4 separate regions of the Homo sapiens genome follow, and regions 1, 2 and 3 are each linked to region 4. The links come from fine-mapping of genetic effects on gene expression. A gene starts in region 4. Each other region holds a variant in brackets. All regions are shown on one strand. Distances are between the middles of the regions. Region 1 holds the start of LOC124900423 (small nucleolar RNA SNORA72). Region 2 overlaps NUCKS1 (nuclear casein kinase and cyclin dependent kinase substrate 1). Region 3 overlaps RASSF5 (Ras association domain family member 5). Region 4 holds the start of RAB29 (RAB29, member RAS oncogene family).

Region 1 (8,107 bases), 42 kb before region 4:
ACACATTAACAGATTATTCTAAGTAAATATTAAATACAAACATTTGAAACAATTCCTGACATGTAGCAAGCATTTAATAAATATTAGTGCTACATATTATTTTTTTTCTCTTCTTCATATCTTTCAGTATTTTCTAAGTCTTCCCAAAGGGCACATATTATCTTTATAAAGAAAAGTTAGAATAAAAAGAAAGAAAAAAGAATAGTAAACATACCTGGAAAGTAATGAGATTAAGGAGACAACTCTGAAAAAACCTCTTATGGCTAAGACTTAGCTATACAACACTCATTCCTTGATGAATTAGTTCATAAATATAAGTTGTTTCACAAAACAGACTCTCATCTTAGTTGCTTTATTATGTAAAAACATAATACAAGGCACAAGTTTTATTGTAGTAACAGCAGGAGATTTTTTTTCCCCTGCAAAGTGCTGGGATTCATAGGCGTGAGCCACTGCGCCTGGCTGTAGTGGATTTTTTTTTTTGAGACAGGGTCTCTTTCTGTTGCCCAGGCTGGAGTGCAGTGGCGCCATCTCGGCTCACTGCAACCTCCGCCTCCCGAGTTCAAGCGATTCTCTTGCCTCAGCCTCCAGAGTAGCTGGGATTACAGGTGCATGCCAACACTCCCGGCTAATTTTTGTATTTTTAGCAGAGATGGGGTTTCACCATGTTGGCCAGGATGGTCTGGAACTCTTGACCTCAAGTGGTCCGCCCACCTTGGCCTCCCAAAGTGCTGGGATTACAGGCATGAGCCATGGCGACTGGCTGACAGCAGGAGATATTTTAAGCAATGAACACTGTATCAGAATTACTGGACATTTAAACTTTGGACTCCAAAACCAGGTAAGAAAAAAGCTTTTTAATGTTTATTATCAATGATTTACCAAGGAAAAGTTAAAATCCATGTAAGTTCAACTTTTGCTTTGGTTGACACAGATCATGACATGGTTTTGGTAAATGATCTAAAAATAAAAAAGTAAAACTTATTCCAAAAGCATAATAAAACTATATAAGCTGGTAACCTCCACTGGTCAGTCCAACTTAAAATTTGTTGAAACCACAAAACTTACCTGCATCATCAGATTCCTGAAACTGTGAGTAATCAACAACCTTCCTATTTCTGTAGAAAGAAGAGACTCTAATTAAAATCATAAAACTGTAGGATTTTTCTAAGACATCAGAACACACATTTCTCTTTCATAAACAGAACTGAACTAGCACTTTGAAAATTATTTAATTGCTGGACGTGGTGGCTCACACCTGTAATCCCAGCACTTTGGGAGGCCAAGGCTGGTGGATCATCTGAGGTTGGGAGTTTGAGATCAGCCTAACCAACATAGAGAAACCTTGTCTCTACTAAAAACACAAAATTAGCCAAGCGTGGTGGTGCATGCCTGTAATCCCTGCTACTTGGGAAGCTGAGGTAGGAGAATCACTTGAACCCAGGGGTCAGAGGTTGTGGTGAGCCGAGATACCTCCATTGCACTCCAGCCTGGGCAACAAAAGTGAAACTCCATCTCAAAAAAAAAAAAGAAAAGAAAAAAAAAGAAAATTATTTAATTAATTTTTTGAGACAGGGTGTCACTCTGTCGCCTAGGCTGGAGAGCAGTGACACAATCATGGCTCACTGCAACCTTGACCTACTGGGCCCAAGTAATCCGCCTGCCTCAGCCTCCTGAGTAGCTGGGACTACAGACGCATGCTGGCTAATTTTTTTTCATTTTTTGTAGAGACAGGGTCTCCTGGTGTTGCCCAGGCTGGTCTCAAACTCCTGAGCTCAGGTAGTCATCCTGCCTCAGCCTCCCGAAGTGCTGGGATTACAGGCACGAGCCACTGCACCCAGCCAAAAATTATTTTTTAAAGGCCCCCACTTAAGCCTAAGTACTTAACATTCTGTTATAAGAAAGCATAGCATAAACCACAAGTATGTCAAGCTACAATTCTCATACTGCTCATCTCAGTGATAATTCAAATACCATTCTTTTCTCTCTCTTTTTTTTTTTTTGAGATGAAGTCTTGCCCTGTCGCCCAGGCTAGAGTGCAATGGCGAGATCTTGGCTCACTGCAACCTCTGCCTCCCAAGTTCAAGCGATTCTCCTGCTTCAGCCTCCCGAGTAGCTGAGATTACAGGCGTGTGCCACCACGCCTGGCTAATATTTGTATCTTTAGTAGAGACGGGGTTTCACCATGTTGGCCAGGCTGGTCTCCCCTGATCTCGTGATCCGCCCGTCTTGGCCTCCCAAAGTGCTGGGATTACAGGCGTGAGCCACCGTGCCCGGTCTCAAATACCATTCTTTTCTACAAAACAATCTCCCGTCTCTCAAAACAAATATACATAAAACAGCAAAATGAGCCAAATCACCATGTACCTATGTATTCATTATATACAAAGATGCCCTATTTATAAGCTAAAGTTGTAAATGATATTTTACTCTTACTGCTACACACATATATATGTATACTTGATAAACAAGGTTATTACTAAGCTTTTCAAGGCAAAAGCAATTTTTAGGTATAGTACAGTTACATTATAATGCACAAAAATTATGGTAATGTTAAGCTTTATACAGAAGGGGAAGGAAACAAATTAATTGGTCCAGTCAAAAGATGCTTTATTTAAAAAACTATGAAAGCCTCACAGATTTATGTACATCTATGTATTTGACTCTATTCTTTTGTTTCTAAACTTTTTTTTTCCTTTTCCAATTTTACAGACCTGGTTTATCAGCAACATTTATAAAACTAGACCTCAGGAAAGAACTAGTTCTGGGGATATATGCATGGTCTTAATAAAGTGAATGGTTAGCCTGTCCTGACTATTACAAAATCAAAACAGTGAGAATATCTGCAGAATCTATTTGACTCTAAATGACTTTAAGTACTCCCTATCAAGTAACGTATCTTTAACATCTCAAACAAATCTTCATTTCTATTTTTGTACTCTGCACTCTAAATCTAAAAGTTTAATACTTCTTCTCTAGAGATATACATGTAAGCTTCCATGTTAGTACCCAAACAGCCTACCTGGCAAAAGAGCCTTAGATTAAAAAATGCACTGTTACTGTAGGCCTAAATTGATCAAGTGAACTTAAAAAATTAAGAGAAATAGGCCAGGCGC[A/G]GTGGCTCACGCCTATAATTTCACCACTTTGGGAGGCCGAGGCGGGCAGATCACGAGGTCAGGAGATTGAGACCATCCTGGCCAACGTGGTGAAACCCCGTCTCCACTAAAAATACTAAAAAATTAGCTGGGTGTGGTGGCGGGCGCCTGTAGTCCCAGCTACTCGGGAGGCTGAGGCAGGAGAATGGCTTGAACCCGGGAGGCAGAGCTCGCAGTGAGTGAGCCAACATCACGCCACTGCACTCCAGCCTGGGCGAAAGAGAGAGACTCCGTCTCAAAAAAAAAAAAAAAATTTAAGATAAATATACATTACCACCTATACTTAAACCTGAGCAGAGGGATATTCTTGGCTGTATAGATTAAGACACCATTTAAATTCAAAGACAGGATGGTCAGACTGCAAACACTGGTCCACCTTCTAGTATAGTATGTGGAGATGGTATGGATGGAGGTGAATTCTGGAAAAAAAGGCTTGGGCTTATATGTAGAGGAATATATAGTTACATACTCAGCATTAGAAAGAGAAAAAACAAGGCTCTTAAGGAGTTCCACCTTCTGTTTTTCTTTAGTTTAACAAAACTATAAAATATACTCCAACTATATATTTTATTGTAAGAAGCTGAGTTTATATTACCAAAGATACTATATTATTAGGAAAGCTAACTTTAAATATGACTATTAATTCCATGTACATGAGGGACCTAGAGTAGATGAATTCAGAGAGACAGAAAGTAGAGTGGTGGTTGCCAGAGGCTGGAAGAGTGGGGATGAGGAGCTGTTGTTTAGTGGGTTTAGTTTCAGTTTTGCAAGATTAAGAGTTCTTTACAACAATGTCAAGTACTTAACAATACTGAACTATACACTTAAAAATGGTTAACATGGGCCGGGCACAGTGGCTCATGCCTGTAATCCCAGCACTTTGGGAGGCCAAGGTGGGCGGATCATGAGGTCAAAAGATCGAGACCATCCTGGCCAACATGGTGAAAACCCGTCTCTAGTAAAAGTACAAAAATTAGCTGGGCGTGGTGGTGCGTGCCTGTAGTGCCAGCTACTTGGGAGACTGATGCAGGAGAATTGCTTGAACCTGGGAGACAGAGGTTGCAGTGAGCAGGGATCGCACCACTGCACTCCAGCCTGGCAACAGAGCAAGACTCTGTCTCAAAAAAAAAAAAAAAAGTTAAGATGGTAAATTTTATGCTAAGCATATTTTATTACAATAAAAATATATTTTCTTTCTTAAAAATATGACTATGAAAAAATCTAATATTTTTGGGCTACTATGGAAATGCCTGCCATGTTCTGGCAAAACAGTGATTTTTTAATGACAAATGCCATGAAAAATAGTATGATGATCATAATGCAAACACGACCATTTTCTGTATTATTTAGGATAAAAAAAATGGGTCATAGAACCAGGGGAAGAAAGGTATCTAGAAGAGGAACTCTTACATCTTATCCTCTAATAATTAAAATACAGGTTCCGAACTTGTAGGTATAATTCTAGCTTATCCCATGCTTGTGGGGTGGCAACTAACATATTATTACCCCATTTCTGGGTACGACGTAGCAATGGATATATCCTATGAAACTACATAAGGATGGACAACCAGAATGGTAAACGGTATATCATATGAAGAACAAATGAATAAATTGAGAATATTTAACTTGTAAAATGGGAAAACATGTTAGCTACTTTAGGGCTTTGATGTGAAAGGAGTAGTAGAGGTACAGCTTAGCTTTAGCAATCACATTAAGTGTAGGTTCAACATAAAGAGCTTTAACTGTCTGCTAACAATGGCTACTTCCTTACTCTATCACTAGAAACACTCAAGAAAGGAATTAGTATGGACTCTTTGTACTAGGAATCCTGGGTTCTGGTTCTAGAATGTCAAGAAAATCATGTAATTTCTCTGGGCCTTAGTTCTTCCTCTGTTGGAACTGATAACCTAAATTGCTTGACAGATCTAAAAGATATTCTATAAAATTAAATGTTTAAATAATAAATTAAATAATAAATAAAATATTTAATAAATAACATAAATGGCAGGCATTATATTAAAATATAATATAGAAAATGGTCACTGCAAATGATCATATTGCATTATGATCACAATACTGTTTTTCATGGCATTTGTCATTAAAAATTAACTGCCCTCCACAACAGAAGAAAACTTAATCTCCTCCTCCTTCCCTGTATATCTATCTGTATCTATCTAGACAGACCTACCTACCTATCTTCCATCTGTCCGTCCACCCATCCATCCATCCAACAATTGAGACAGGGTCTTGTTCTGTCATCCAGGCTGGAGTGCAGTGGCAGTCATAGCTCACTGCAGTCTCCAACTCCTGAGCTCAAGTGATCCTCCCACCTTAGCTTGTGGAACTACAGAAAGGCACACAGCCACCATGCCTGGCTAATTAAAAACAATTTTTTTTTTTTGTAGAGACGGGGCCTTTCTATGTTTCCCATGCTGGTCTCAAACTCCTGGCCTCAAGCAATCCTCTCACCTTAATCTCCCAAAATGCTGGGATTACAGGTGTGAGCCACCAGGCCTGGCCTGTAACTTGTTACTTTAAACCTAAGACACTAAAAAGGATACTTTTTATTTAGTACATATTTTTCTATCCTACTTTTCAACAAACAGAACTACAGAAATGCCATGTAGACTATATTGGCATTATATAAACAATTAAATTTTAAAATTAAATTGAAAGACTATCCCTTCCGTTGAAATATGAAGTATTTTAACTTTCAATGATCTGAAAACAGCCAGAATGATCTCATATGCCATTTATCACAAATACCATAAAATCAGTGTAAAGCAAAATATGAATATAGAAGCAATTCTGCCTTATTAAGGGCAACCAGTCAGAAACAAATATAGTCATCCATAAATGCTAAAGAGGGAAAAGATAAAATAAATAAATAAAAGATCTGTGATAACAAGGGCCATTCATGATGACTCATAATGACTCATAATAATTTGGTTCAGGCCGGGCTTGGTGGCTCACGCCTGTAATCCCAGCACTTTGGGAGGCCAAGGTGGGTGGATCACCTGAAGTCAGGAGTTCAAGACCAGCCTGGCCAACATGGTGAAACCCCATCTCCACTAAAAATACAAAAAATTAGCCAGGCGTGGTGGCGGTCACCTGTAATCCCAGCTACTCGGGAGGCTGAGGCACAAGAATCGCTTGAACCCGGAAGGTGGAGGTTACAGTGGGCCAAGATTGTGCCACTGCACTCCAGCCTGGGTGATAGAGCAAGACTCCATCTCAAAAAAAAAATAAAAAAGTTTATTTCCCAAACAATGTCCTGCCTCCTAAAGATGCTTATTCAAAATAATATAAATAACATACTATTTCCACCACTTAAAGGCTTGCTTTGTCTGGGGTTGAAATACATTTTTGATGAATTTGTTCCTAATGAGATGATAGGACAGAAATCCAGCATTTAAGAATTTCATTTAAGTCCCAGGGCATGAGAGGTTCTATTTCTAGGTGAAAACAAAGAAACATTCTAATTTCTTCAAAATACAATCATGTGCTGCATGACATTATGGTGAACTGCATACATGACAATGGTCTCACAAGATTATTATAGCATATTTTTACTGTACTTTTTCTATGTTTAGATATATAAATACCTACCATTGTGTTACAATTGCTTACAGTATTCAGTACAGTAACATGCTATACATGTTTGTAGTCTAGGAGCAATAGGCTATACCATACAGCCTAGGTGTGCAGGAGACTACACCATCTGGTTTTGTGGAAATACATGCAAATCACCTAAAAATGCAGTTCTCAGAATGTATCCCTGGTGCTATGTGACACATGATAGTTAAATGCCAAAGCTAAACTAACTCTTCAATGTAAAATGAGTATCAATAACTAGAACTGGAGGACAGCATAAAATTTCAATATAGCAGAGAGGTTAAAAACACAGATTCTTGAATTTACGTCCTGACTCTTACTAGTTGTATATCCTCAAGCAAGTTACTTCCCCTGACTGAACTTCAGTCTCATCATCTGTAAAACAGGAATAACAATACCTGTTACAGGAATAACAAGAGTGTTGAGAACATTTCAGAACATTTGTGCAAGGTATATAAATATCAATAACAGCTATTATTACTTATAAGTATTAACTTGTTCCACCCAGAATACCACTGTAATTTTGAACACATAACTAACTCTTATTTGGATATGATGATTAAGTCACTTTGTTGAAAAATATGTAAGTCTTAAAAGTATTGGTTCTAGTATCATTCAGAAAGATTGTCTTTGTTTTCTTGTTCATCTCACTAAAATGTAATACCAAAATATCTCTTTTTTTTTTTTGGAGACAGGGTCTGCTCTGTCATCCAGGTTGGAGTGCATGAAGTGCAGTGGTGTGACCATAGCTCACTATAGCCTCAAACTCCTGGACTCAAGCAATTCTCCCAACTCAGCCTCCTGGGGAGTTGAGATTACAGGTGTGTGTCACAACAGCCAGTAAATTAAAAATTTTTTTTTGTAGAGACCAAGTCTTGCTGTTTCCCAGGCTGGTTTTGAACTCCTGGCCTCAAGTGATCCTCCCTTCTCGGCCTCTCAAAGTGCTAGGATTACAAGCATGAGCCACCACATCCAGCCCTCCCTATTTTTATTTCTGACTTTATGGCAAAGTTCAGGTTACCATTTAGATCAAAAATTTTTAAATCATTTTTTAAGTTTAAAGCATTCATAAAACCTATCAAAGTCTGATGGTCGTGGGGGTGGGAGATATGGTGGTGCTGAGAGTATTATATGTAGTAGAGCTACTGGACCCTAGACAATCTAATTCAACCTTTAGCTTGTATCCTGTTAACAAATATCCCTAGAAGAGAATGACTGAGAACTTCTCATGATCTCCAAGGCAGCCTATGCTAAGAAAATTCCAGTAATTGCCAGGTGTGGTGGCTCACCCCTGTAATCCCAGCACTTTGAGAGGCCGAGGCAGTGGATCACCTGAG
Region 2 (8,094 bases), 62 kb before region 4:
GGAGAATCAGTCCCTTATAATCCTCATTATATAAAAAGAAGAAACGAGCATAGAGTGGGAGGTAGGCGGATAAGCTGACTTGCCCAAGATCACCCTGTCGATTGATCTGACTTCATCTGCAACCAGCCACATAGCTTCTCCAAAGCAGGTCGCCAGACAAGGAAAAGTGATTGGGGGTTCAAATAAAACAAATGACTACTCATGCTATAGTTAGCACGATGTGCTGTTCTGAACTCTGCTGTGGAACACCTGTTGCACTTTTTATACTATTCACATACATTACCTGGAATACTCCAGTTTTCAACATTGTCTGCTTCAGTCCCTTAAACCATAGAAGTATCCAGACATGCCAATATCATGAGAACCAAACTATACCTTAAACTGTTTTTCCTGTTGAGGAATATGAAAGAACTCTTCATTGTAGCACAGATCCCAATTTTTGGTGGAATATAGTCACCACAATTTTCATTGTCAATAAATATTGCTGGCTAATTCAGAGGTGACCTGTGGAAGCAACACGTGCTCTAAGAACTCCTGTTTCCACTGTCTGGTATTATTAGTGTGTCCTTACTTAGACTTAGCTCTCCCAGAGAGAGAGCCATCTGCTTCTCTCATTGCACAGTGACTGTGCAATGGTGTTGACTTCTAGAGAAGAGTAGCCCAAGAGCTAAATATTAGAGGTCTTATTGCTTCCCTTAAGTGCATGGCAAGAGAAAGGAAAGCAAGGTGAGAAAAGGACTGACTTGCTTTGCCAATGGCCCAGGACTGGTGATTTTATAAGGTTTAGCACAAAAACCACTCTTTTGAACTAGATACTGTGTATATCCTGTGTACTTCAAGTCACACCAGCATTCCCTACAACAGAGCTTAGGAATGCTATTTATCTTGTACTCAGGCCAACTGTGTGGCTCTCTACCGAACAGCTGGTTCCCCATCCACCTCTAGGACTATCTAGTTGATGTATAAACAATATTTTTGCCTCAAAAACGCTAACCCCATGGAAACTAACTGTTCATCCACACACACACACACACACACACACACGCACACATACACACACGAAGGAAAAGAAAGATGGGGTTAATTAGGTCAGAAGCAGGAGGAAAAGACAAAACAGGGGGAGCTTGGGGTTTGTAACTGAGATGTGGCATGCATTAGATTTGAAGTCAGGTTACTGAAGCCCCAGATTATGTTCCAAGGTCTAAACAGAACGTCCATTGAGTCTTTGATTCCTAAAGACATTTAGTGCCTTATAAAAGAGCTTAGCTATATCATTATTCCTGATTACCTTAGAAGTAAAACGATATTTTTAAAGTGTTTAGTATTTGTATTCCTCTAGGCTGAATTAGTGAACCACAAGAGACCCAATTTATAGCCACAAAATGAGGATCCAGTGTGGGTCACTGTCTACACACTTCTTGGTAAACACCAGTGTTTCACAATCTATTTTTCGTTATTTCTTTTTATCTTTTAAGAGACAGGGTCTCATTCTGTCACCCAGGCTGGAGTGCAGTGGTGCGATCATAGCTCACTGCAGCCTTGAACTCCTGGGCTCAGGTGATTCTTCCTCCTAAGCCTCCCCAGTAGCTGGGATTATAGGTGCATGCCACTATACACAGCTAACTTGTTTATTTTGTTTTTGTAGAGACAGGATCTCACTGTTTTCCAGGCTGGTATGAACTCCTGGCCTCAAGCAATCCTCCTGCCTCAGCTTCTGAAAATGTTGAGATTACAGGTGTGAGCCACTGCACCTTATTTTTTGTTAATTATATTACTACACACGTTCAGTTCTTTATGGATGAGACACTTCTTACCAGATAACCAATCAGCTAGGGTTACCAAATTGGTAGTTATCATATCCTAAAATTTAGGCTATCATTTTTCTTGGATCAATGACTTTCTATCTCCTTCAGAGCCTTACTTTACCCATCTACCCTAATCTCTTATAATCAGGAGAGCCCTGACTACATATAGACTGTGTATTTGTGTTTCTTCCCAAGATGGAAAAAGTATAACTATTACACACATTGCTTTGTACATCAGCCAAGGAGGTGGTCTTACACATTCTAATAAAAGGGTTTGTGTATTCAACTTAATAGCTAAAACATTACCAATAATAATATATATGTGTACTCTTCCTTGATCAACCTGTTCCTTAAAGTTAGATTTTTAAACAAATCCCTTCTGGGTGCCAGCTTACTGCTAAATCAAGGCAAACAATTATTTCCAACATTTTGTTATCATAGTTTAAAGTAATTATTTGCTTTATTAGGATGGGAACTCTGGCTGTACCCTCTCACTCCCTGACCCCAGAATTAACACAGCATTTATTTCACAATATTTGTGCAGGGTTTACTATTGAACCAGGGGGCACACCCATGAATAATACTGATTTCTCTTGGTGGTGACCCAGCCAAAGCATGTCAAAATGAGTACCTATCTATTCTAGTAAGATAATGGAGGAAAAGAGAAGCAAGTCATCAAGATAAAGGAACACAAACTACCATATTACCTTGAAAACAAATCTAAGTATTTGTTGTGTGTGAACACATATCAGTGCTGATTGTACAAGAAACAAGGCTTTTGAGCTGGAAGGCAATTTCAAAGACAACACCTGTTTCAAAATAGGGCAAAGAGTTCACAGCTGCATTTTGAAATTTCAGTCTGCACTTCTATTTCGGGATGTTATCCACATAGGCTTAGGAGATATAAAGAGGGAACAACACAAGAAGACAGATGTGCATGAATCAAGAAATTCTATTTCCTATTTAAAATTCAGAAAAGATTGCTGCTACATACATTAGGATGTTAACTGGGTACACTGATCACAGGGCTTCGATAACCCAAGTAAGTGGCAAGGTGTTGATACACTTGCAGAATATCAACTGAGCCTAGCCGACAGTATCTAAAAATGTCCTGAGCCTAGTCTGATAGTATCTAAAAATGAGATGGGGAGAGCAAGCATTCCACTACCTATGGAGGACAAACACTGCCCTCTACTGGCAGACTGTAACTGCTATACAGTCAACATGACGAACATTTTCCTCAACAGTCACTATCATGAGACATAATCAGAAAATAAAAGCTTTTAAATAATTTGAGGCTTTGTGTCTAGGGGTCACCAGGATTTTCAAGCAAACCGAAGTATTCAATGAGAAATCTCCTTACTCATTGAAGTTTCCGACTTTCCCCATTAAATCTTTGATGTAACTCATTGGACTGGTTCAAGTATCACTGTTACTGGGAGATGTGAGAGAACAGCAAAATGCTCAAAAGCTCAATACCAGGAAGAAGGCTTAAGGGACCCATGTATACCAAAGGGAGCTGGCTTTAGAACGAACAACTGTGATAACTTAAAGCACACAGCACTGATTCAAACCCTTGTTGTACTACATACTAGCTACATCAGGTACCACATAAAACCTCATCTTACCTGAACCAGGTTATTCTTTACAATATTGGAAGAACAAACACTTGCCGATCTCACAGTTGTTGGAAAAATTAAATGAGGTAATATGTGTTGCACAACTACAGTGTAGTACTGTATACCGATGTTCATGGATAGGAGTCTAGGTAGCTCCAAGTGTGTTTTAACCTCTCTTCATCTGTTTATCCACTTGTTGGTTTTTGAAATCCTTTAAATCAGACTGCATTTCTTCAGCACTGTCCTGAAACATAAAATTGTCTATGTTATCCATAAAATACTTAAGGATTATGAGGAAAAGTAGATGGTTAATGCTCATCCAAATTCAACTTTAACCTGAGACAACTCATTATATTAAGAAATAAATGTATGTGGGCAGTGTGCCTGCACCTGTAATCTGAGCTACTGGGGGAGCTGAAGCAGGAGGATCCCTTGAGTCCAGGAATTTGAGACCAGCCCAGGCAACATAGCAAGACTCTCATATCTCCGAAAAAGAATAAAATGGCCGGGAGGGGTGGCTCACGCCTATAATCCTAGAACTTTGGGAGGCCGAGGTGGGCAGATCACTTGAGATCAGGAGTTCAAGACCAGCCTGGCCAACATAGTGAAACCCCGTCTGTACTAAAAATACAAAAATTAGCCAGGTGTGGTGGTGTATGCCTGTAATCCCAGCTACTTGGGAGGCTGAGGCAGGAGAATCACTTGAACCCGGGAGGTGGAGTTTGCAGTGAGCTGAGATCATGTCATTGCACTCCAGCCTGGGCGACAAGAGCAAGACTCCATCT[C/CA]AAAAAAAAAAAAAAAAAAAAGAAAGAAAGAAATTTAAAAAGTTAGCTAGTCACTGACGGATAACAGGATGCACAAAGCATTTAATTTCAAAGCCAAATTTGCATTTCAATTATAGTATTTGGCTGACAAGGCAAGTATGTAAACAAGAGGAAAAGTTAAAAAGAAAAAAGCCCTAATAGCTACAATATCAGCCCAGTTCTAAAGAGGGATCTTGTACCACATTGTCCACCTAACAAGTAATCTTTAATTCAAAATTCAGCGTAGTTCTTATGGGTATTTGGAATTGAATGCAAGTGTGTTCTGTGAGTATAAACATTATCTTTTATTATATATGATTGTTAAACTTTGCTTTCCACAACACTTCATAACCTTGGATGTAAACATGAGAAAAAATGCTAATTAAGAATCCTTACGCACCCAGTCCAGTGCTCCCTTAATTAATCAAACTGGTAAGTCTACTGCTTCTTGATTCCATCCTGAGGTATTAACTTTTGAACCAAGACATGTTTATCTTTTACCAACAACAGGGATGGTCACTGTTAAAGTTTCTAAATAATTTATTAGGGAAATAAGTTCCCACAAAGTCAGGCTGAACTGGGAGCTGATTAACAAAGCTGTGTAAGTTAGTGTGTTTGCTTTAAGGTATTACAAGAAGTACACAGAGCACACATCTGGGTTATAAAAGCCCTTTTATAAAGCCATTTTTAAACAAAACAAAAAAAAAGTTTACAAAAGAAAAAAAGATACAGAAAAAGAATAACTTGCTTCATATGTCCCAAAAAGAGAAAAAAATAAAGGGGACAATGCCAACATGCTCAACAATAAAGGCTTCTTTTTCTTATTTTTTTAATACAAAATACAAGCAAAGGATACACATACTTAAAACAGAGCTCAGGAGCAGACACGCAGTCCTGGAAACCCTTCAATAAAAGCAAAGCAGGAGTTTGTTTTTTCTTTGTCTATGCAGATACATACAGAGACTGGGATATGTAAAAATTAAGTATCACAAAAGACCATCACACGATTCTACCAATGCATGTTGCATCTGTAATTCACGAACATGGTCAACAAAATCATGTTCACTTCAACCCCATTTCATTTAAATTAAAGAAAAAAACCTTTTAAATAAAGTGGTTACATTCAAACTTTAACTTCCTTAGTACCATGCTGCAGATTTCAGCACTGTTAAGGTATTGCAAGAATGCCCAACCCTCTGGTGTCTGATCATGTATCTAGCAACATTGCAGTATGAAGAAAAGAGATGCCCCGGTCTCAGCCCATGGACTAGTTAATACAGTGAAGCAGGTTCCTGTCTTTTACCCTTCCTGCTCAGAACATAAAAGATTAAGGACTAAAATCAAGGAAGACTGGGAGTTTTAGAGCTGGCAAAATGAAGTCTAAAAGATAAATCAAGGCAAACAATTACTGAGAACTTGGCTGTTGCTTAACCTGGCAAGTCTAAAAGCCTTTCTTTAACCTTGTAGGAATTAGATGCATAAGGTTTGCTGCAACATGTTCATGGTAAACAAACTAAGTAGAGCTCTTATTTACAAATCTTGTAACAAATACTTCTGGAGGAAAAAGAGAAAAGAATTCACTAAGTTCCAGAAGACAAAGCTTTAATTGCCAGATGTATACAAACACACACTCACACGTACACACCCACACAATACTTCAGGGGTTTTTATACATGTTATTTTAGGGCATAAGCTGAGTACTATACCCCCACACCCCATCAAAAAAGGAACAACAAAAAAATCCCAATTTTACCCTCCCCCAATAATCTAGAAAACCCTCCCTTCACCCCTGATGTACAAAGTGTATGCACAACGGTGGCATTCTACCAGCCACACAAAGCATGCTCAAACAGATGTCACCAGTTCAGTCACTCCATTGGCATGGCAACAGGCAGGTTTACGGGATGTTTCCCAATAGTGGTTATTACACAGTCAGCACCACTGTGAATTTTGTGAATTTGAAAAAAAAAAGTGTAATTTATGGATTCAGGATTCAAAAAGAATCATTTTGTATCGAATTTACCCCAGACAAAGGGAAAACTGGTTGCGACTGAAACTTGGCTATAGATAGCTTGATGTCCCAATATTCAAACAATAAGCCAACTCTCCATTTTCAAGTAAATCCAGCTTCATCCACAGAGAAACAGACAATTTTCTAACCTCAAGAGCAACCAGCTTGTTACATTTTCCCTATCCTATGGCAGGAAATGCGTATTACTTCTGTTCTGTTTAAGCATCTCAGTCTAAATGCCATGAAGACCAGAGCCCAGGTTTCTTCCTTTTCAAATTCTTAAGGTGAAAGTTTTTTCCTTTCAGTGCAGCTACCAATGATGCAGGCAAAGAACTGTTCAAGCCAGCACTCATTCTTCAAAGCTGCAACAGTGGCCACCATGATCTTTTATAAAGCTTTCCCCGTTGCTCCTGATATTTATTTCTGCTTTTGCCTAACGCTCTCAAAGCATCTCGTAAACTGAAGTTTAAAGAAAAGCACGATTCCCATCCCCAACCAGTACTTGAAAATCCACTTATCTGAATGTTCACAGATAAAAAAGCCATTAAAAAAAAGAGTCAAGTTTAGTCTAGCTGACCATATTCACAAGTGTTAAAAACTTTACTGGAGTATAACCTCAAATTTCACTCTTGATTTGTTATCTGTAAGAAAATGCTATTTGAGCCAGTACCAAATTAAGTATTAAAATGAGGATTGAACTGGGGCAAACAGGTTATTGTGAAAACAGTCAATATGTAAGCTCCTTCAAGGGAAATCAACTACTGTTCCTCAAGATTAGAAGATGTCCACACTCTTTGCATTACCTCCCTAAAGGAGGAAACACCCATTAATTTTCCCTTATGGAATCAATATGGAGTGGAAATATGAAATGAGGAGATGTTTTAGAAAGCAGGACAAATCTACCTACCATTACTGGAATTAAAATGTATCCTCTGGGCCCACTCCATTGATTCCGATCTGAGGTGAGGAGGACTAAAAGCAGCAGCAGGTTACAGAAAGACTGAATAAGATGAAAGTATGCTACGTATGTCTAGCTGGGGAAGGGGGGATCTGGAAAAAAAATCTTAAGAACTAGAATGTAGTGTCAGTCAGCATAGCTGCTGAAATCTACGTTGTAGAGGTAAACCTAGCAGAGCTAATACAAACAAGCACCTTCAAAGTTAACGTCCCACTTCCTGAGCACTGCAAAATACGACAGTGAATGCTATTGCCATTTCACCATAGGCACACTAGAGAAAAAGAGGAAGGTTAGTCAAGGATGGTGCCAATGGCCAGTCAGTATCGGCTTACAGCTTGTAATGCGTCCTGACATCACTATCAAGCCTGACTATTGAGCACCTGTATCCAGTTGAGTCACCACCACTGTCCTCCTATTTGCATGCATGATTTGAGGGGAAGACTAGAGTGTTTTAAATCATCAATAAAAAGTGGAGAAAACAAAGGTTATTCAGAGCCTGTCTCACTTGGGGACACAGATCCTTCTGTCCAGTCTATCAGAAATATAGAATACATTTTTCAATCTAATGAATTAATTTTAAAAGGGACCCTAAACAAGAAGCCCAATCAAATGCACACAAGTAATCTAGAAGACATGATTACCTCTAAAATATGTGCATATATCACAGAGATGTTAGTGCAGATTAATATATTAAAGAGACTGTTAAACAACTGAGGCTGAAGTTTTAAAAGAGCCCTCCCCCCAAATCTTCACGAAACATAACCTAAGAAAAGCCCAAATGTTACTAGGAATGTAAGACTTAAAATTATAAACTCCTAAAAAATAGAAGTGCATGGTGGAAACACTGATAGGTCTTTTACTATATGAACACAAACTTCTTTGTTAAAAATGGATACCT
Region 3 (8,107 bases), 740 kb after region 4:
TGGCCATGGGTGGGTCCCAGCTCCTGCACCCCAGTGTTCTCCCACAGGGTTCTCTCTGGCTCCCACACCCACCCCTCATTCCTCAGTTTCCCCATGGAGGGCAGCTGCTGGCATTCTTGCTCTGCCCAGGCTTACTATGAAGGCTGCTGAGGAACCTGTAAACACATCTCTGGCCTCACCAGAGGCCCTTCCTGTTCGCATTCCTCAGATGGCAAGGTGAGTATTCTTGGGTGGGTGAGTATTTGTGGGTGTGCAAAGCATGCAAGCTCCCCACCCCCAGCCCTTCTGAGGGAACCATGTTCCTGGGGCTCAGTCAGCACCAGCTGGTATGATTTCCTTCTCACAAGCTTGCAGACCTGGGTCTGTGCTGGTGGCAGGATGCTTTCTGCCTCCCTGCAGGGTCTCGCTCTGTCTCTGCTGACTCTGGGCACCTGCCCCTCCCGCAGGGCTCTGTTCTGACTCTCCATGGCTGGGTGGGGAAGGGCTGGCGGCAGCTGGGAAGGCCGGGCCTGACTGGGGAGATGGTTTTGCATTTAGTCATTTTCAGTTTTTTTCCAAGACTTTTGGCAAGCCTTTCTCCACATGTTCCGGGCTGGATCTCAGGGTCGGAAGGGGAACAGAGCCAGTTTTGGGGCTTAGGGGAAACAGCGAGGAGGCTGAGGTGATGACGTTAGACCAGGCAGAAGGCTGGGTTCCCTGGGGGCACTGGTTTAAGTGGAATAAAGTCGGGGCTTGGGAGCAGTCATGGGTTGCCCCACCCCAAGGTCAAGACTATCTTGACTCACACCTGGGGAAGTGACTTTTGAGTTTTTTCTGAAGCACTCATAACTATGCTGAGGAGACTTGGGCAGAGCCTGGTAGACCCCAAGAACTCTCCATGGTGTGGTCTTTGGCTGAAGTGGCCCACAAGGCCATGCCGGGCCTGTTCTAGCATGCCTGTGGTTCCTAGAGTACACAAAGGTTTGTGAGAGATGTACCCATTGGGAAATCTTTGAGGTTTGATTCTCTTTTTTTACCCTTTTTGGAGAGGAAGGAGGAAGGGCAGTGGGGTCCCTCCTGGCATCATAGCATGTGTCCAGCCTCCCAGGGGAGAATGCCCCACTTTGGCTGAGGAGTCTGGTGACCCCTGGGAATTGTAGCAGGTTCTAGATTTTCTTTCGGATTTTCCTACCTATAACTACTGCCCTGGCCCCATTTGAGGGCATGGGGCAGAGGGATCGGGGGGAATGCAAGATGTGCATGCTGAGGGTCTATAAGAGGGGTGGTGTTGGAAAGAGTAGTCTGTTCATTTTTGTGTGGCACTGAGCAGGTGAGTGGATGGCTGAGTATGACACTTACCTGTGACAGGTTTATTCTTCAGTGGAGGGCCTATGTGCCACCTTCTGCTCCCCATTCCTGTTTTTTGAACAAACATATTTCCAGGGTGGGGCAGGTCTTATTTAGACATCTGCAATGGCCATTGGCTGGGGCTGCTAGAAAATTAAAACTTGGCTTACATAGACCTTTAAGAAATCAGACTCCAGGTTCATGAAAGTCAGGCCAAAAAGAAGAGTGATGTTCTTATTTTTTTAAAATCCTTTTATGTTTTGTTTCTACTGGATGCTAGAGCTGGAAAAGAATTATCATTGTGTTTGCTGAAGATACAAGCTGGCATTCTGTGAACCTGCTAGGATGAGTATATTCACATGGAATAGGAAGAGTTGAGAATGGCAAAGAAACTGTGGGAGCAGAAATAACTTTTGTTGCACTTGGCTATCACTAAGGCCGTTTGATGTGCACTGCCTCTGTCAGGATTGCAATTCTGTTTCGTCGGTAGAACTGATGTAATCAGGGCCATCTCATAGATGAGGAAACACAGCATTCAGGGAAGTCAAATGACTTCGCTAAGATAACCCAGATCATTAATAGCAAAGCCAGCACCAGAACCCAGCATGGCATTTTGCCTTAGGCTAATATCATTGATCACGCAAGTTAGTTGAGTTTACTTATCCATCTGCTGCCCTTCTGCTGGTGAATGCTGAAATGTCCAAAAAAGGAGGTACAGGAAAAAAAGGGAGGTGAGCCCTATACAAGCTAGAGAATCAGCCAGGGCTGGGTAATTGAGAGTTGGCTCCACTTAAGCCAATTTTCAACAATCAGTTTCTAAATTGATTGTCACCATGTGCAAATCATGAGATCTTTAGAAAAAGGGTGAAGTTTTTCCAAATCCTAAGATGAAAGAAATAAGTGTGTCTCTCCCCGCTCCCACCTCACCCCGTAGGTGTTCAGGGTGTGTAGGGGGTGGGCCTGGAAATGCAGGTGGAGGATCTTTTTCTGTTCCAGTCCTCCTTCTTGCCATGGCCCAGCTCTCAGAGTTCATGACACAGCACTAGTCAGGAACCAAAGTGAAATTAACAGACTGGATCCTAGAGGGGACAGCTAGGGTGAAGAAGACATGGATAGGGACTGGACAATAATCTGAAGCTGCCTAATGGACCTCTGGCTCTAATCTCAGGCAGTGATGTGGCCCCATGAGAAAAAATACATCTGGGGAAACCTCCCACCCCCAAGCCAGCTCTGACTCTCTATATTTCTCCAGGTTCATCTCTTATTTGGGAACAGGTACCATTGCTTACTTTTCTTGCTGATTTGCAGGAGGCTGTTTTTTCTATCCAAGTTGAATGGAAGTTGGAGACTTGGTGGTCTCTGCTGAAAGAATTATGTGGATTATTTTTTGCATCTGAAGAAAGTATTAACCTCCCCCACCTCAAACAAAACCTCAGAGATGCCTTATTATTCAACTGGAACAGATTCCAGCTGTAACATGAGAGTTTTGAGAGAAAGCGTTGAGCATATTGTCCATGAATGTCTACCCTAGTGATGAGTGTTTTTTAAAAGCCATCTGGAGGTACCTTTATATAAAATAGGGTGATAATATATTGTACCCCAGCAAGTAAGATGGTGAAGGTTGTTGCTTCAAATTATGCTGGGCCATGGCTGAACTTGCCTCCAGCATGGAGGTCATTGAGTCATTGCTTAGATGTCAGAGACAGCAAGAGGTCATTGCAGGCATTTCCCTGTCTCTAGGTAGTGCTCCTCCCAGACCATCATTACAGTAGAAAAATCTATCTAGTTTTCCAAAGGTCAGGAATGAAGATCCTAGAGCTTCTGAAAGCCCCATCTCCAGACTCTGCCAGTTCTTTCCTGTTGTCTTTCCCAATGGCTTAACCTGTCAAAGAACAGCTCAGTGATGAGGAGAAAAGAGAAGTGAGGTCAGCATATTCTGCAGCCCAAACGGTGCATTCGGAAGGGATTTCCCCGCATTACACGTGACTTTTTTTTTTTTGAGATGGAGTCTCGTTCTGTCGCCCAGACTGGAGTGCAGTGGTGCAATCTCGGCTGACCGCAACCTCTGCCTCCTGGGTTCAAGTGATTCTCCTGCCTCAGCCTCTTGAGTAGCTGGGACTACAGGTGCGTGCCACCACACCCGGATAATTTTTTTGTATTTTTAGTAGAGATGGGGATTCACCGTGTTAGCCAGGATGGTCTCAATCTCCTGACCTTGTGATCCGCCTGCCTCGGCCTCCCAAAGCGCTGGGATTACGGGCATCAGCCACCACGCCTGGCCGTGACTCATATTTTAAAGTTCCCCCAGCAGCCCTGTGTTCTCTTCTTTGAGGGC[G/A]GGGATGGGAATGAGCCCTTGCCTGTGCTCAGCCAGGCAGGACTTCCTAGGCCCTCTTGGAGATCTTGGGTGCAAGGACCAGCAGGGCAAGGAACTTGGCCCCCACCCCTTGTTTGATGGTCCCAAGTGTCATTTCAGGACCCGGACTTGCTTATGCCCTTCTTCTGGTACAGAGGTTGCTTGGTAAACTAGAGAGGGCCACAACAAAGGCCATGGGCAGCTCCCTTCTCCCTGAGGAAGCATTAGGGAGAAAGAATCAGTCCGCAACTGAGGAAGGGTGGCATCTGAGCACAGACGTATAAGTGCATCTTCCACCAGAGATTCTGCAAGTGTGTGAGTCCTCTGAGGTGGATTTCCTCTGGTTAAGGGATAGGTGTCCCTGCTGGGCATGGAGGCTTCACCCCTGTAATCCCAGCACTTTGGGAGACTGAGGCAGGATGATCTCTTGAGCCCAGGAGTTCGAGACCAGCCTGGGGAACATGGTGAGACCCCCACCTCTACAAAAAATATAAAAATTAGCTGGGTGTGGTGGTGCCCACCTGTAGTCCCAGCTACATGCTGGGGGGTGGGAGAATCACTTGAGCCCAGGAGGTCGAGGCTGCAGTGAGCTATGATTGGACCATTGCACTCCAACCTGGATGACAGAGCAAGATCCTGTCTCAAAAAAAAAGAAAAAAGAACAAGTGTCCCTCCTTCATGTTAAGCTGGTCCCCGCTGGTGGTTGGCAGGTGAGTCCTGTCATCTCTGGGCAGCCTGGGAGGGACACCCCTCTCTAGTGGCTTTTCTGGAAGGCTCTGCTGCCTGTCTGGTGCCAGTCTTCTGTCTTGGACTGGGCAACAGGGCCTCCCAGAACTTTTCTACTAGGGCTTGGCAGCTTCTGGGAGTCAGAGTGAGAGAACACCTGTGAGTACTGTTTTGGGGCAAGAGAACAATATTTCTGCCCTTTTGTGACAGACTGATCTTTTCTCACCACCCCACACCCATAGGGTCACATCCGCTTCTGCTCAGGTATCTAGTCTCAGAAAAATGAATGGCCTGACCCTCTTAAAGCAACACCACCTCCTTATGGGCCCCTCCCCCACCCTGGGCTTAGCATGGGAGGATGTGAATTAGCCCCAGTTTGTCCCTTAGGAGCCTGTACAGCTGGTGAAGCATTAGTAATCCACCATCCCCAAAGAAATCCATTAACGAGCTCCTGGGCTGGGCACGTGGTGTGAGGTAACCGATCACTTCTGTCGTCTGAAACTTTGGAGACATTGATTTTCAGACTCACAGGCGCGACTGAGAAGTGAGGCTCGGGGCAGGCTCTTCCCTGCAGCCTGTTTGGTGGGGGCATTTTTATCTTATCAAGCTAAAAGCCCCAGGAATAGAAAGTTTTCCACTGGGGGAGGTGGAGGGGAAAGGACCTCAGTGCGGAGACAGAAGGCATCGTCAGTCGTTGAGGGTACCAGAGCCTGAGGGTCCAGGTGACTGTCCAGGTCATGCGAGGCCCAGGGCCCTCCCCGGAGCCCTCCCCCACCCGGCACTCCACCCCTGACGCCAAGCCTGGAGAAAAGCTATTGATCTCTGGCGCTGAGATGACCGAGGGCCAGGAGGAGAAGGCAACCGCTGCCTGCTTTGGGACAGTCACTGCTCAGCTCCAGCGGCTCTTCTGCAGGCTCCCGAAGAGCCGCTCGGTCTCCAAAAAGCACCAGATCCTGCAGAGGTTCCGCAACGGGGCCCGGAGGGCTCGGGGTAGGTCTAAGCCAATCTGACTGGGGGAGCTTGGGTTCTGAGGCCTCTGCTACTGGCTTCTCCCATAGAAAAGGAGTACAGGATCTTTCTGGCAGTCTGCTGTTTAGTGCTGAGCTCAGCACCACTCCTTGGCCCTCCTGACTCCGCAAGGACAAAGGCACAGGTGCTGTCACCTTGCCTGGTATGGGTTGAACAGCCAGATCCAAAGGACATGGTCTGCCTGTTTTGGAGGCCTTGAGTGGGTAGTGGATTTTAACAACTTTTTATTGGCTGAGAATTAGGGCCAAGCGGTCGTCTTAATCAGGGTCCCTGAGCTGGCAGAATATGGGTATCTCGGATGGCCACTGTTTTCCATTCTGCCTATCCTGTAGCCCTTCAGACCCTGCCAAGTTGCTGAGTCAGCCTTCTGAGGACCTGGGAGCAGTGATGTTTCCCAGGCAAAGGCTTCTCACCTGCAGAGTTAGTGAAGGTGCAGGCTGCATGGGGCTGAAGGCTGCTGGGTGGAGCACAGCTGACAGGAGTCCCGGCCTCGGGAAGTGGCCAGACCACTGATTCCTCTCCTGAGCACTAATTAGGGCAAGAACAGTCCTCGCCTGAAGAAGGATAACTGGACGGCATAGCGGTGAGTGAAAGATAAGAGGCAGAGACAACAGCAATCCAAATCATCATAGGATCTTAGGTCATCCCATGCCCCTTTTCCAATGAAAGGAAGCTGGGACCAACAAAAGGCCCTGCTGGTGGCAGTGCCAGGACTATGAACCCTGGGCACCTGCCTTCCAGCCTTGGATTCCTTCCGCTGTCTCATGCTGTCCACAGCATCTTACACTTCTGTAGCACTCTCTGCTAAACACTCAGAGCATTTACGTTTGTTTGCTTTTAATATCATTTATTCCCTCCAGATCCTGGTGTGGTGGGAATGGGAAGGGGATTATTCTGTTTCACAGATGAGATAGCTCAGACAAGTAAGGCCCCTTGTTAAAGGTCATTGCCATCTGGCTGGGTCTGGAACCTGCTTCTCTTTAACGGTTGGCACTCTTTGGAGCATACATACTTTTCTTGGGGCCCCCTGTCCCCATTTTTCTCTATACTTCTCTCATATACTTTCAAGAATCAGTGGGGATCTAGGCAGGTCACCACACTAAGTCATAGGGATGGGACTAAAATGAAGTGCCATCTCTGGACTAAGTTTTGGAAGCAGATTTTTAAAAATAGGATCTTGACTATGAAAAATACGATTTTTCTGATTAAGGCTTTACCTCTTGAGAAGTGGGAATTTTAATTCAACTAGCCCTAATCCCCATTTGGAGACAAATATTTCTTAGCCAGCCTGAATAATTTATCCTCATCAATATCCTAATACATACTGTGACCTTCACTGAGAAGAGAATTGGACACCGAGTTGCTCAATTTAAATGCTCACGAGCAAGTTGGTATTCATCCTCTCTTTCCCCCTCCCTTACTCTCTCTTTAAGAATTATTCAGCAGATCATTTCCTCGCTCCTTTGCTATTCAGTCCAAGGAGTTATAGATTTAAGTAAAATCAATCAGGCCTGAAGGGGCAGCATTAAGGTCAGGGCACATACCGCACTGTGGCTATGATGGGCTTGCTTAACTTGTGTTAGCATTTGGGCTTAATTGCCAAAAGAGGAGGGGAGAAGACAGGATGCTCAAGATGATGGGAAAGGTGGACTGCAGACTGTGGACATCTGGAATATCCTCATCTCACTCACAAGACTCCATGAGCAGCCTGGAGTGTGGCATTTAAGAAAATGGGTTTGGTGGCCGGGCGCGGTGGCTCACGCCTGTAATCCCAGCACTTTGGGAGGCCAAGGCAGGCAGATCACCTGAGGTCAGGAGTTCGAGACAAGCCTGGCTAACATGGCGAAACCCCGTCTCTACTAAAAATAGAAAAATTAGCTGGGCAAGGAGATGGGCACCTGTAATCCCAGCTACTCGGGAGGCTGAGGCCGGAGAATTGCTTGAATCCGGGAGGCGGAGGTTGCAGTAAGCCAAAATCGCGCCACTGCACTCCAGCCCAGTTGACAAAGCAAGACTCCATCTCAAAAAAAAAAAAAAAAGAGAAAAGAAAACAGGCTTGGAGCCAGGCTGCCTTGAGTCAGGATCCTGGAGTTACCACTTTCTGGCTGTGGCTCCTCCTACAGATTAACCTCTCTGAGCCTCATTTTTCCAAGTATAGGATAGGGCAGAATATCTCAACCTCAGACTGGTGTGGGGTAAATTAAATGTCAAACAGTTGAAACCATGTTTGGTGCATAGAAAGCCCTGCACTGGGAGCTGCTGTTGCTGAGTGCTCCCAGGAAGACTTTTCATAACTGCTCCCCGTGGGTCATTGGGACAAGCCTGCAGCACGGCTGTCTGCCCCTCCATTGTACCTGGACCAGGGTGGACTGCCTGCATCTCAGTGGGAGACATAGGACTTGAAGGTTGCCCAGGTAAAAGTAGAGGAGAGACATAAACTCACAAACACATTCCCTGGAAAAATTCCTATCATTGAGTTTACCACATCACATAATTAACAGGCAGAGCTAGATTAGCCCACCGGGTATCTTTAGGAGCTAAGCAAGCATGTCGCCAAGGAGCAAGTCATATGTCATTTTAAAAGGCTGCTAGGGGGGTCTGTGGGAAATAGGCCTAGGTCTCTCCAGAAGTCTCTGGTGGTCCTGGCTGCAGCGATGCAGCTGTAAAGAAACC
Region 4 (8,107 bases):
ATACATCTGCATGCCTATCAGCATGAGCTACTTACCTCATAGCCTCATTAATATTTTTGTTCTCCTTGACTGATGTTTCTGTCCAACCTGTGAAACCGTTCTCTTTACTGAACCGGTCAATCTGGTCCCGGCTCACTGCCCAAGGGGACAGATCACACTAGCAAAGAGAAAAAATAAAAGGCAGTATCATAAACTTCCTGCAACTAAGAAAGAATATGGCTCAGATACTGTGGATTTTAAACATATTTCCACCAATGGATAAGAACACCAGCATCGGAAATCTATAATCAACATTCTTCCCAAAGAAAGTCTCACCCTTGGCTGGGCGCAGTGGCTCACGCCTGTAATCCCAGCACTTTGGGAGGCTGAGGCGGGCAGATCATGAGGTCAGGAGAGCGAGACCATCCTGGCTAACACAATGAAACCCAGTCTCTACTAAAAATACAAAAAAATTAGCTGGGTGTGGTGGTGGGCACCTGTAGTCCCAGCTACTCGGGAGGCTGAGGCAAGAGAATGGCGTGAACCTGGGAGGCAGAGCTGGCAGTGAGCCGAGATCGCGCCACTGCACTCCAGCCTGAGCAACAGAGCGAGACTCCGTCTCAAAAAAAAAAAAAAGAAAGAAAGTCTCACTCACCCTCAACATCCTTTGAAGGAGGTAGAGATGATTTTGCCAACTTAAGAAGGGGAAATGGATGCCCAGAATCAGAGAGCATTTTACTTCCTTTCTAACCACAGATAGAGGCTAGGGACCATTTTCTGAGATTGGCCACATACCTTGTTGGCCAAGAGCAGGCAGGGCACCGGCTCTCCATTGGGTAGTGTGAGCTTGCTGTCTAGGTCCTGTTTCCACCTCTGGCTGTTGCTGAAGGTAGTGGCATTGGTAACGTCAAACATAATAACACAGGCAGAGGCATCCCGATAATACAATCGTGTCATAGAGGTGAAGCGCTCCTGCCCTGGGGAGAAAGGGGAGAGTTCTCAAGGTGACCCAAGAGCCGGCCTCTCCCCATTCCTTGTAGAAGAGGGCAGTAAGCATATGTGTCAGATGGGGCCACTCACTTTCCCCCTCTGACTCTTGGTTTTCTATCCCATAAAGGGATAATGAAGCCCAATTATTTCCAAGGCAGATTCCGCACCCAGATTGCTCCAGTCCAAATCCCTGCTCTGCTGCATACTATTTGACTTCGGGCAAATCAAGCTCTCAGTGCTTCAGATTTCTCATTTGTAAAGTGAAGATAAAAGCAGTCGCTTTTTTTTTTTTTTTTTGAAACAGTTTCCTGCACTCCTGTTGCCCAGGCTGGAGTGCAGTGGTGCCATCTAGGCTCACTGCAACCTCCACCTCCCAGGTTCAAGCAATTCTCCAAAAGCAGTAGCTTTTATGATAGGGTTGATGTGAGGATTAATGAGTCAGTGAATTTAAAATACTTAGAAGAATGCTTGGCACATAGTAAGGATTCACTATTTTTACTGTATCTATTTTCTGGGGATCTTGTTTTTCACCAAGGTCAGCCTTAAACCTAGAAAAAGCACCCTCCCCTGCTGTGGGAGTGTCCACCTATAGTCTGGACAATCCACCACCTTGCCAGCCCCTCCATCCACATAGAGACTGCTCCAGATCTATTCAGGGCAAAACATCTACAAAAGCTCTGCACCTATTCAGCTCATGTGTCCTCAGAGCAGCTCAATCATTCCAGCTTCAGAAAAACAATTTCTGGCTTTGCTGCCCCATTTTTTCCTCAGAGCTTTCTAGTTAAATCAAAATTTCTTCCCTTGTTCCTATCTAGCCCTCCCACTTTACCTGCAATATCCCACAGCTGAAGCCGCACTATCTCGTAGTCAGACCACTGGAGAACCTTCAGAGCAAAATCCACTGAAAATATATGTACATTATACTTTAATAAAATTTCACTGTAAAAAATTAATAGGGATAAACTCAAATCAAATAGGCAGTGAAACCCTATGGACACACAACTCCAATCCCATATGTTTAACTTTAAGCCCTCAATTCACTGAGATGAGTCCACATGCGTGTATTTAGTGTGAGATGGATGATTCATACTCACTCTCCAAAGGGGTTTCCAGCTTTTACTCTACTGTCAAGCTCATTTATTTGCTACTGTTTGTCTCCAAGACTGGGGGTGGGAGTAACTATGAAAACAATTCTCATTCTCAGGTTAAATAGTTTCTGGGAGATTTAGGGGGTTTTCTCAGGGAAGGGGTGATGGGGGAGAAGGGGGAAATGAGACAAGTGTGGTTGCTTTCGTATCTTCCACATTCAATTTCACTGTTGGTTTCTAATCAAATTGTATTATGAAAAGAACACACCCTGGGGAACTCTACATCCACCATAAGGTTGCAGGTATTATCTTGGGCAAGAATGGAATAAATGGAAAAGGTCCCAGAGGAGTCCCAAGAAGAAGACACTGTGTGGATGTTGCTGAAGAGTCCTGCTGGAATCTACCACCAAGTCTGCAGGTGCTGAGACTCCTTAAGGCTGAGTAAGTATTCCATGGGGAAAGCCTTTTGGCTAAGGAGAGAAACAGAGTAATTTCTGAGGTTTGGAAATATTATCTTTCACATCTGTGACAGGAATCAAAGCTAAGGGAAATTTAGACTAAACACTGAAAAAAAAATTAGCCAATTATATTCTTTGCTAAAGGAAAACTACAGCAATTGTTAAAAATTAACTATTAATAGCAGGCCACTTTTAACCCAAATCCGTGAAATAGGGACCCTTATATTATTTAGGAGTGGGAGGGCAGAGCGGTCAGGATAGAGTGTCTGAAACTTTGAACCTTTAATTTTGCCAGACTTAAATTTTTTGTTCCTTTGTTTTTGAGACAGGGTCTCACTCTGTTGCCCAGGCTACAGTGCAGTGAGTGGTGCGAACGGGGCTCACTGAAGCCTCGACCTCCCCAGTTCAAGCAATCCTCTCGTCTCAGTTTCCCGAGTAGCTGGGACCACGGCTACTTTCTTCTTTAATTTTTGTAGAGGTGGGGGTCTTGCCATGTTTCCCATGGCTGGTCTCGAACTCCTGGGCTCAAGCAATCCTCCCGCCTCAGCCTCCTAAAGTGCTGGGATTGCAAGTATGAACCACGGTACTGGGCCCTACTGGGGGTTCTTAAGGAGAATGTTTTAATTGCAATGTAAATGTTTGTTAATTTCTTTTTAAACTTCCATATGAACAGGAGCACACATTTTCAATTTTTCCATTGGTACGAGTTTTCCCCCCTTGAAACAAGTTCTTTTAACAGAGAGAAATAAAATTTTAAGTTACTCTCCCCCATCACCAGCTCTTCCTAGCTAAATACCTTCTAATTAACAATAAGGCATTTCTGCCTCTGAAAAAATAGTTGAGTCCAAAGGCCACACCCGGGAAAGAAATGAATGAACTCGGTGTCCCCTTCCTCCCTACCTTCTCCAGTTTGAGGAAAAAAGTGGTGGGAAGATAGGTCAGAGAAGTGGTATATTTCACATTCTTGGAAGAATTCCTTGGTTACCTTTATTTAAGCAATCAACGGACAAAAACACAGCTCATCAGCCCTCATGGGCATCTGACTGCGTAGCCAAGGGGCTCGTTCGGGGATTTTGTGTCTTCCATCCCACCCACAGCCCCACAACAAAGCTACAGTCCTTCAGACCAGTTCCGCTTCCTGCGTTCTCCCACTGAAGCCAGGTTAAACACCTTGCGGTTCCTCCCTCAACAGAGGGGCAGGACTACAGCCCCAGCCGGCACCTAACCAGGAGGCCCCACAGAGGATCTCAGCTGCTTCTGCTGATTGGAGAGATTTGCCGGACAGCTGAAAGGCTGGAGACTTAAGTTCACAGTACGCCTGCAATAAACAGCAATTGCTCATCCTCATCCTCCCTTCCCTATTTCTCATCTTCACGCCTTTGCTCTTACCTTTCTCCTGGCAGTGGGCTCAGTTTGGGAAAATCTAACGGGAAACTCAAGAGAGGCGTGTAAACCAAACACCCGGCAATTACACCATCTAGGTTCCCAGACAGTACTTCCTGACCCGAAGAAGGACCCAACAACCGACAGCAAATCCCCACCCCACTTGGGTCCCCAGCTCGAGTCCGCGGTCGGGGCCTCCTCCTCCCCCTCCCCCTCCCCACCCCCGAGACGTCTCACCTCCCACCGTGGACTTGTAGTGTTTGCTGAAGCTGTCCTGGGAATATCGCTGCACCAGCGACGTCTTGCCCACTGCGGCGTCCCCCACCACCAGCACTTTGAACAGGTGGTCGCGGCTGCCCATGGCTAGCGGGGTGTGCGTTTTAGGGAGGCGGGAAGTGTGGTCGGGGATCGGGGGTCGCTCGTTTTAACCCCTTTGGATCCGGACCCTCTTCAAACTGAAGTGAGGCATTCCCACCCACCGCCTGTCTGGGCTGCTCTGACGAGAAAGCAAAAAAGGAAACTTTGCACTCAACCTATACGCGCTTCCTCCCCGGGCGGCCGCAACCTGGGTGGGGCGCAGGGCGCGAGCTCCGAGCCCCCGGCTGTTCGCACCTTCCCCACCCCCTCCTGGCCTGACTGCCGAGAAACTGGACCAGGCGCCGCGGAACCTCACCCACCGGGACTTCCCCCGAGCGGCTCCAAGTCAGTGACTGAATCCCAGTCAGCTCCTTACACCACTGGGGCCAGATGATGGGGACCCTCCCCTTGCAGCACAAACCAAATTGTGAGGAAGGAGCAGCCGGCACCTCGATTCCCTAGACGCCCTCCCGCGCGCCTCTCTCTCCCCTTCCTCCGCAAGCGTCACGTGCAGGGTTGCCTGTGGCACTACATTTCCCAGCTTTCCTCGCGGTAAAGAGAACCAGCCGAGTGCGGAGGCTCACCGCGAAGCCTCCTGGGAAATGTAGTATATTCGTTATTTTGTTTTAAGCAAACCTACACCAAGTTTCAAGGCTTCAAACTCCCTCGACAGTTTGGAATCTTATTTTGAAACAATTCTAGGTCAGTAAAGATCCCTTAAGGGGAGATTTGTGCAACGTGATCTCACTGGCCTGAATCCATCCCCAGATAGTTTTCTCCTGTCTTTAAAGGTTTAACTGAGTTAAGATTGAAACTTATTTCATTAGTAAAAGCCCAAGCCTCATCCATCATGCTCCAAGTGAAGTCCATTTCCTATTCCTTCAAGTAGATAGACAAGCCCAGGACTTTGTGAAATGACTCATATTTTCTGTGTGAACTTGCCCAATACCAGGCAAGTTCAGGAAAACTTGACCCAAGAGACCAGTCTTTGGAAAAAAACCTATGCCAAAAATTACAGCATTTAATATCCAGCAATAACAATAAAGATGGACAGAAAACAAGAGACAGTTCTCCATTCATACTTCTACAATGCCTATTCTAGCCATACTACTCATGTATCACTTGAGCTAGAAGCTAATTGAAATACACTGGGACTCCTTCTTGATTTGTTGTGGCTGTTGTTAATAGATAATCATAAAACTAGTGTTTGGCAAATAATTTTAATTTCTCAGCCTGTAACTTTACTGACCTACCTGTCACTTGGGTAGAAGTTGGCAGGACATGAGCTCAATGGCAAGCAAAGAGAGCTCCATTTTCTATACTTTTCTAGGAATAGAGGAAGAGAACCAGCGGGGCCATGGGAAAACAGCCCAGGACCAGACACTAGGAAATCTAGGTCTCTTGATAGAGAGGCTATCACTTATGTTTTGTGGCGAAAGAACATCAGCATGGTTCACAATATATTTTGCCCAGAATGTTCGTTACCCAGGTACAGGAGGTTAGTTCAAGCTACTCATCTTTAAGGATCCAGTTTTCTCTGTTCTTATTCGTTTTGACATAGTTGACCACTCCTTGACATTTGTTTCCCTTATGCCTTCTATGACGCTGTTCTTTCTTTGTCATCCCCGTACTTCTCTGATGATTATCTTTTTCTTTCAGGTTTCTCTCCATCCCATTTCCCGCTAAGTATTTCCTAAGGCCTGATTCTTGGTCTCTGAGTCAATCATTCGATAAACTCTTTAGTGAATTGTCCTTGGTGTCAAAGATCTATCTTCACTTTATTTGTTCTTTATCTCTGATCAGTGATATTCTGTCAAGACCAGCTCTGTTGGGGAGACCCTAACCCAGTGGCGCTAGAGGAATTAAAGACACACACACAGAAATATAGAGGTGTGAAGTGGGAAATCAGGGGTCTGATTTCCTTTAGAGCTTTTAGAGCTGAGAGCCCCGAACAGAGATTTACCCACGTATTTATTAACAGCAAACCAGTCATTAGCATTGTTTCTATAGATATTAAATTAACTAAAAGTATCCCTTATGGGAAACGAAGGGATGGGCCGAATTAAAGGAATAGGTTGGGCTAGTTAACTGCAGCAGGAGCATGTCCTTAAGGCACAGATCACTCATGCTATTGTTTGTGGCTTAAGAATGCCTTTAAGCGGTTTTCCACCCTGGGCGGGCCAGGTGTTCCTTGCCCTCGTTCCTGTAAACTTACAACCTTCCAGCGTGGACGTTAGGGCCATTATGAACATGTTACAGTGCTGCAGAGATTTTGTTTATGGCCAGTTTTGGGGCCAGTTTATGGCCAGATTTTGGGGGGCCTGCTCTCAACATGTCCCTCTTCTCTGATTTGCAAATTGATAAATGCAAAGGCAGCTTTGTCACGGTGAGCTACTTCTCGCAGGAGTCAGGATACACATCTGCAGACTATACAAAGACAAACAACACAGATTAAAAGCACAATCATCATTGAAATCACAGAGCTTCCAAGTGTTTTTATCCATTTTCGGCTCCTTTAAGCACTCCAGTTCCTGGCATTAAGGTCAAGTGTGCCTCGGATGCTTTAAATATTTCTTCTTTTAATTTTAAATCCTTATGTTAAGCTCCTAGAGCGGGCCATATCATTTGAGGTTGAGGTGTCACTATACTGCCATGGTTCCAGATAATAGGAACTCTTGCTGTACTTCTTATTATATCTACCATCTGACCATTTTGTTCAGACCAGCTGAACATAGTGTGGCCGTGGCACGCAGACTGAGAGGTGCAATTCAAGCTAAACATCCCCTTAGGGGACCAATTAATAATGATTCCATAGGAATCATTGTGCAGCATCTCTGCCTGTTCTGCAATGCAATCTTCCTAAACAAGTACGTTCATTTTTTCTAACTGGGTCCAATCCTGTTTACAAATAAGTTTTTGAGGGCGGTATGCCTCAATTATAGGAGCAGATTTATTATGGTAAATACTGAGATCAGAAAGCATGTGTAACTGCGTCATAAAGTGATTGCATCCAGGCATTATTGCCAGCCAAGATTGATAAATATACCCAATAAGTATAATTGTTCTCTGTGTCAGCCCTTAATGAAGGAATACTCACGGCACTGGTGATAACCGCTATCATAGCTACCATTAACACTTTATTTGTTCTTTATCTCTGATCAGTGATATTCAGCTGCCCAAAAGGTGCCCCCACTTGGATGTCCTGCCACATCCTTCCTCTTACTACATTGCCATAAAAATAGCTCCTTTTCTCAGCTTCCCTATTTCTGTCACTGGTCTCATCATTTCTTGCCTCCATGTAGACTTCAGATTCTGAGCATTATTATTTCCTTTACACATGTCCCTTTATACCTATTTATTTGTTTGTTTGTTTATTGAGATGGAGTCTCACTCTGTTGTCCAGGCTGGAGTGCATTGGCATGATCTTGGCTCAGTGCATCCTCTGCTTCCTGGGCTCAAGTAACTCTTGTGCCTCAGCCTCCTGCGTAGCTGGGACTACAGGCGCATACCACCAAGCCTGGCTAATTTTTGTATTTTTTTTGTAGAGACAGGGTTTTACCATGTTGGCCAGGCTGGTCTTGAACTCCTGACCTCAAGTGATCTACCCGCCTCAGCCTCCCAAAGTGCTGGGATTACAGGCGTGAGCCGCCGCACCTGGTCTATACCCTTTTAAAAAAAATTCAGTTACCATGTCTGATTGATTGTTTCTTCAGTAAATGGTTTCTCCCACTCATCCTCTCTGCTTCATATTCAGTAATACTTTCCTTTTTTTTTTTTCTCCAACTTTTATTTTAGGTTCAAGGGGTACATGTGCAGGTTTGTTACACGAGTAAACTGCATGTTGCGCGAGTT

The links. PIP is the estimated chance that this variant, and not a neighbour inherited with it, causes the effect.
Region 1: its variant is fine-mapped to the expression of RAB29 in whole blood (TOPMed, PIP above 0.99).
Region 2: its variant is fine-mapped to the expression of RAB29 in naive CD8 T cells (Schmiedel 2018, PIP 0.95).
Region 3: its variant is fine-mapped to the expression of RAB29 in pancreas (GTEx, PIP 0.96).

The regions. Positions count from the first base shown.
Region 1 is chr1:205,728,504-205,736,610 of GRCh38, forward strand. NUCKS1 (nuclear casein kinase and cyclin dependent kinase substrate 1) reads right to left here. Exons shown (of 7, transcript NM_022731.5): 2 at 1,069-1,118. It overlaps LOC124900423 (small nucleolar RNA SNORA72), which reads right to left and starts at 2,849; the gene lies at 2,718-2,849. The variant A/G (reference allele first, on the strand shown) is at 3,117.
Region 2 is chr1:205,708,311-205,716,404 of GRCh38, forward strand. NUCKS1 (nuclear casein kinase and cyclin dependent kinase substrate 1) reads right to left here. Exons shown (of 7, transcript NM_022731.5): 7 at 4,512-8,094. Among named protein-coding and RNA genes, the nearest start is that of SLC45A3, 32 kb to the left of the region's middle. The variant C/CA (reference allele first, on the strand shown) is at 4,210.
Region 3 is chr1:206,513,150-206,521,256 of GRCh38, forward strand. All of the region lies in intron 1 of RASSF5 (Ras association domain family member 5), which reads left to right. Among named protein-coding and RNA genes, the nearest start is that of RASSF5, 9.7 kb to the left of the region's middle. The variant G/A (reference allele first, on the strand shown) is at 3,662.
Region 4 is chr1:205,770,698-205,778,804 of GRCh38, forward strand. It overlaps RAB29 (RAB29, member RAS oncogene family), which reads right to left and starts at 4,785. Exons shown (of 6, transcript NM_003929.3): 1 at 4,576-4,785; 2 at 4,136-4,389; 3 at 1,799-1,870; 4 at 775-956; 5 at 36-157. The coding sequence starts at 4,259. RefSeq lists an enhancer at 3,650-3,699.